Linked DNA regions of Homo sapiens. The protein of the gene in region 1 purifies or fractionates together with the protein of each later gene. This does not show direct contact. Each region holds a gene or a part of one and is shown in the gene's direction. Other genes may lie near its edges.

Region 1 (2,450 bases):
TCATCTGAGGTCAGGAGTTTGAGACCAGCCTCACCAACATGGTGAAACCCCATCTCTACTAAAAATACAAAATTAGCCAGGTGTGGTGGCACATGCCTGTAATACCAACTACTCGGGAGGCTGAGGCAGGAGAATCGCTTGAACCCGGGGGGAGACGGAGGTTGCAGTGAGCCGAGATCGCACCATTGCACTGCAGCCTGGGCAACAAGAGTGAAACCTTGTCTCAACAAACAAACAAACAAACAAACAAACAAACAAACAGGCTGAGTGCAGTGGCTCGCACTTAAAATCCCAGCACTTGAAGAGGCCGAGGTGGGAGCATTGCAGTGGGAGGATTGCTTGAGGCCAGGAGTTTGAGACTAGCCCAGGCAGCATAGTGAGACCCTATTTCTATAAAAAGTTAAAAATTAGCCAAGCATAGGGGCCTAGCTACTTGGGAGGGTGGCTTCTTGAGGCTGGAGGGTCACTTGAGCCCAAGGATTCAAGGTTACAGTGATCTACAGGCTACAGTGCAGTGGTGTGATCACAGGTCACCACAAACTGGAACTCTTGGGCTCAGATGATCCTCCCGCCTCTTCCTCCTGAGTAGCTAAGACTATAGGCAAGTGCCATCATGCCCAGCTAGTTTTTTAAACTTTTTTGTAGAGATGGGTCTTGTTATGTTGCCCAGGCTGGTCGTGAATTCCTGGCCTCAAGTGGTCCTCTTATCTTGACCTCCCAAAGCACTGGGATTATAGGCATGAACCACCACACCTGGCCTCATTATGTTATTTCTAACTTGGTTTATTTTTGTTTGTGAAAATAATATTATTATTATTATTATTTTTGAGATAGAGTCTCACTCTGTCACCCAGGCTGGAGTGCAGTGGTGTGACAATAATTTATATCATTAAAAAGTTTTAGGCCGGTTGCGGTGGCTCACACCTGTAATCGCAGCACTTTGGGAGGCCAAGGTGGGCAGATCACCTGAGGTCAGGAGTTCAAGACCAGCCTGGCCAACATGGCAAAACCCAGTCTCTACTAAAAATACAAAAAAAATTAGCCGGGTGTCTGTTGCATGTCTGTAATTCCAGATACTTGGGGGGCTGAGGCAGGAGAATTGCTTGAACCCAGGGGGCAGAGGTTGCAGTGAGCTGAGATTGCACCACTGCACTTCAGCCTGGGCGACAGAGTGAGACTGTCAAAAAAAAATTTTTTTTTTAATTTCAATACCTTTTGGTGTACAGGTGGTTTGGGGTTACACGGATGAACTGTACAGTGATGAACGCTGAGATTTTAGTGCACCTGTCGCCTGAGTAGTATACATTGTACCCAATATGTAGTTTTTTATCCCTCTATATTATCATTATTGTTTGAGAAAATAAGACATTTTGTTCTTTCTCTGCCAATCTCTCTACCCCCAATCTCCTTGGCTTCAAAAACTTGTTTGCTTACTGTCTTTTGAGAAACTAAAGCTCCCTGTGATTTGTGATGTTCTCCAGGCAGGGGGCCCTTTCCTGGGATCATTGATCTGTTTGGGAGCAGCAGGGGCCTTTGTGAATACAGGGCCAGCCTCCTGGCCGGACATGGTTTTGCTGTGCTTGCCCTGGCTTATTTCAGATTTGAAGACCTCCCCGAAGATCTGAATGATGTACATCTGGAGTACTTTGAAGAAGCCGTGGACTTTATGCTGCAGCATCCAAAGGTGCGTTCTGGTGATCACCTGAGTGCAGAAGAGAGGGGATAGAGCTGATGCAGGGCTGAATCCAAAAGCCCTGCCAGAACACTGAGAACTAGAAACATGCCAGGAGATACCAAGTCTCCTTCAAAGGTTACTAGGGTGGAAGCTGGGCATGGTGATGTGCACCTGTAGTCCCAGCTACCTGGGAGGCTGAGGCCGGGGGATTGCTTGACCCCAGGAGTTCAAGACCAGCCTGGGCAACATTTAGTGAGACCCCTGTCTCAAAAAAAGTTTTTGTACTAGGATTATTATTTCCATTTTCTCCCATCTCTCTCTAATCCCTGAAGACTTGACTATTTAGTTGTCTTTGTAATTGTGGACCAAAATTCAAAGAGCACAGGACTAAAAAAAGTTCCAGCTCTGCATCTACCACAGAGTGGCCTTATGATTCTGAATAAGGCAGTTACTCTCTCTGGAGTTCAATTTTCCTCCTTAATAAGATTAATGTAAATGTATATAGAGAAAATGACTATAAAGAGATATTTTTTGAGACAACTGGAGACATTTGAATGAGAATGGTGTATTTGATTATATGAAGTAATCATTAATTTTGTTGGGTATGATAATGGTATTATGGTTTTGTAAAGAAAGTCCTTATCTGATAACAGAAATAATTAATTAATTAAAACATTTTGGCCAGGTGCGGTGGCTCACGTCTGTAATCCCAGTACTTTGGGAGGCCAAGGCGGGCAGATCACCTGAGGTCAGGAGTTTGAGACCAGCCTGGCCA
Region 2 (3,514 bases), on another chromosome or scaffold:
GCAAACAAAAAGTACGTTTGTAAATTTGACAATCTTTAATCATTTATTTCATAATCATAATCGTGGAGGAATTGAAAAACAGAAAGACCTGCTATCACCTCACAAATGAAATACTTAGTTCATTGTGTTTTATTCTCCTTGCAAATCATTGACGATATTTAATTAAAAATTACAAAACTGCTAGACATTCCAGTCAAAACTAGTTTCCTCTCTTACAAGCAGGCAGATCAAAACTGACTGACATTTAATATTATTTGTTTACCTTCATTTTATCTTTAATAAACTCAAGAATCTTAAAAAGCCAATATATACATGGTTAAACAAATTACTGAAAAATAGAACTTTGAATTTATGATTCAGCCTTTTCCAAAGAAACAATAGCACAAGCAAAAATAAAAAATGAGTGAAACATGATTACAAGTGTTTTAGAAATACACGATTTTTCAGCTGTGTAGGCACGTAGTTTATATCAACTATCAACAAATTGTTCATGACTTTAGAAGGGCAAACATTAGAGTAGGATTAGATTGTGGAATTTCCATGGTTTAACTCTAAGAAAGCACAGGATTGGGGTTGGAAATTTTACTGGAAAGAGTTGATTGTTTAGACTGTTGATTTAGTTATGTGAAAATGGGAGGAGGTAGGGTAATAGCTAAATAGGAACTAGAATATAAAATGTAAACATAGAGTTCGGTTGAAAATAGTGATCAACAGAAGTGGCAGTAAGTACCCCAGAATTCCTCAGCTTAAAAATAAGAAACAAATCAACAAAACATTTTCTACTTTAACCACAAAAAAAAAGCAAAATGAACAAAGTACCCATTCATATAAGACAACTACCACAGAAACTAAAGGAATGTCTTAATTCAAAACAAGGAATTTGATTTTGGTTCTTACTTGCCAGAGATCCTAGGCAAGCATACTCATAAAGTGAGGAAATAGAGTCCTAAGAGATTAATACCTGGAATTTCATTGTTAGAAAAATTTGCACAATTTCAACGGAATGAATTGGTGAAAGCTACTCTATCACATAAATACTATTCAAATAGCAATTTACAGTGTATGCTGTGTTCCATATCCTAGGAAATCTGTTCATTGTTGATAGGGCTGACGGTCTATAAGGAATTATCACTCCCTAAAAGGAAAGAAACTTGCAGAGCAATTCAGCATCCAAGGAAAGACTGACAGCTTTGAAAGAGACCTGATAATGATGCAAGTAGGAACTTGCATGTGCTTGAAGTAAGCACTGATTTAACAAAACAAAGACTCTGTTCTGCACATACTTTGGAAACACATATTCTTTGAGAACTTGGTTATGACGAGTTGAAATGGCCACTTGAACTAAATTCCCATGTTGAGATTTGTTTATCCTTCTTATCTGAAGCCAGAGCCAACAATCCTAAAAGTTTTGAGTGACATTTAATGGTTCCAGGAATTGGGGCTTACCTATCTGCAGATAAACCTGCTTCCTTTTTGGCTGTATTATATTAAGTAAAACAGTTCTGTTAAATGAATATAAAGTGGTCCCTTCTATACTTTAGAATAAATAAATGACTTGAGCCAGATGCAGTGACTCACGCCTCTAATCCCAGCATTTTAGAATGCTGAGGAGGGAGGATTGCTTGAGGCCAGGAGTTCAAGAGCAGCCTGAGCAGCAAAGCAAGATCCCATTTATATAAAAAAATTAAAAATTAGCCACACTTGGTAGCATGCGCCTTGTAGTGCCAGCTACTTGGGAGGCTGAAGTGGGAAGATCACTTGGGCCCAGGAATTCAACATTGCAGTGAACCATGATTGCACCCCTGCACTACAGCCCAGGACTCAGAGAGAGAGCCTGTCTCTGTAAAAAATTAAAGCATAAATAAATAAATAAATAAATAAAAGGCTTGACTTTTCCCACAGAGATATTCTGCTGGTAAATAGAGAAATAAAGCTTAGTAGTTTGATTTATTTTCCATGACATCAGTTACTCTGAGTACAATATTTTTGTTACAAGTTGTATTAAATTATTTGTGCTTTTAATGAGCCAATTCAATGTTATTCTTAATAACAATGTTATTTTTGTCACTGCAGCATTTCAGCAGTGTTCAAAATACATCAGAGTTTCCACTTAAAAGATCTTTATAAGAGAAAAGATAACACATTAAAATCATATAAAGCATGCAAACTTACAACCTCCTCCTCCTGTTACAAGAGTCCCTCCTCCTATTACAATAGTCCCTCCTCCTCCTGTCACACTAGTCCCTTCTCTTCCTGTTACAATAACCCCTGTCCTCCTATTACAACATTTTAAGTAATGTAATATTAATTTTAAAAATCTGGCCAGGCACGGTGGTTCATGCTTGTAATCCCAGCACATTGGGAAGCTGAGACGGGTGGATCATTTGAGGTCAGGAAGTTTGAGACAGCCTGGCCAACATGGTGAAACTTCCTCTCTACTAAAAATAAAAAAGTAGCCAGGCATGGTGGCAGGCACTTGTAATCTGAGCTACTCGAGAGGCTGAGGCAGGAGAATCACTTGAGTAACTAAAACGATAGCTTTGAAGAGTACTCCGAGTTTTATGGCACTTACTTATTAAAATAGCTGTTTTGTCTCTTTTTTCATATCTTGCAGCCAAGTCATTGTTGGATAAGCGAGATGGTAGTACAATTGTCAGACAGCTTGACTGATCTTCTGGACAAGTTTTCAAATATTTCTGAAGGCTTGAGTAATTATTCCATCATAGACAAACTTGTGAATATAGTGGATGACCTTGTGGAGTGCGTGAAAGAAAACTCATCTAAGGTAACTTTGTGTTCATTGGGATTATTTTTCATTACGCTTCTCTAAAAACCCATGCTTCTTGGTGCTGTTGGGGAAAATGAGGCACCTTTATTTATGATATTTTGATTGTATAAACTTCAAATTTAAAAATCTTGTTCAGATGAGCAAAGAAAACAAGTATTTGCAGTTATACTGCAATACTGAAGTGCACATTCAAACTTAAATGTTGTCATCTAATACAAAAATAAAACTTATTTACATTACAATGCAAAATCAGTCCTGCCTTTATCTTTATTCTTCATAAGTGAAGTCCTTGAAACCTTTCTATTAAGTTACAAGTGTTCATTTAAATGGAAAATTGTCTGTAATAAACACATATCCTTTTATGCATAATGTAATCACCCCATAGGTCACAGCAAAGGAATACATTTTGGCTCCTCAAAGTCATTGGATAACTGATCATCACCAACTTCAGGATATGGGCATGACATATGGAATAGGCAATGTACTCCAGAAAATAAGAGTGAGATATTGGAGTTTAAATTCTGGCTCTGTCGCTAATGAGTTCTGTGAGCGTAACTTCTTTGTACCTCACTTTCTTTATCTTTAAAATGGGGGCAATGCCAGAATTCATCTAACAGGGTCGACGTTAGGTTATTTGCCATGAGTACTTTAACACCCTACCTAGCAAAATAAATATTAATAAAATTTGATGTTTTTTCATCACACTGTGTCTATAGCAAAATCATG

What was found.
Region 2: the proteins of ACOT6 (region 1) and KITLG purify together in Homo sapiens (affinity purification with mass spectrometry; one large-scale study listed by BioGRID and IntAct). This does not show direct contact.

What each region holds. Positions count from the first base shown.
Region 1 is NC_000014.9:73,615,509-73,617,958, forward strand, and holds part of ACOT6 (acyl-coenzyme A thioesterase 6), read left to right. Parts: intron 1-1,335; exon of another isoform or gene 1,336-1,485; coding exon 1,486-1,684; intron 1,685-2,450. UniProt on the Homo sapiens protein: Catalyzes the hydrolysis of acyl-CoAs into free fatty acids and coenzyme A (CoASH), regulating their respective intracellular levels.
Region 2 is NC_000012.12:88,517,968-88,521,481, reverse strand, and holds part of KITLG (kit ligand isoform b precursor), read left to right. Parts: intron 1-2,614; coding exon 2,615-2,785; intron 2,786-3,514. UniProt on the Homo sapiens protein: Ligand for the receptor-type protein-tyrosine kinase KIT. Plays an essential role in the regulation of cell survival and proliferation, hematopoiesis, stem cell maintenance, gametogenesis, mast cell development, migration and function, and in melanogenesis.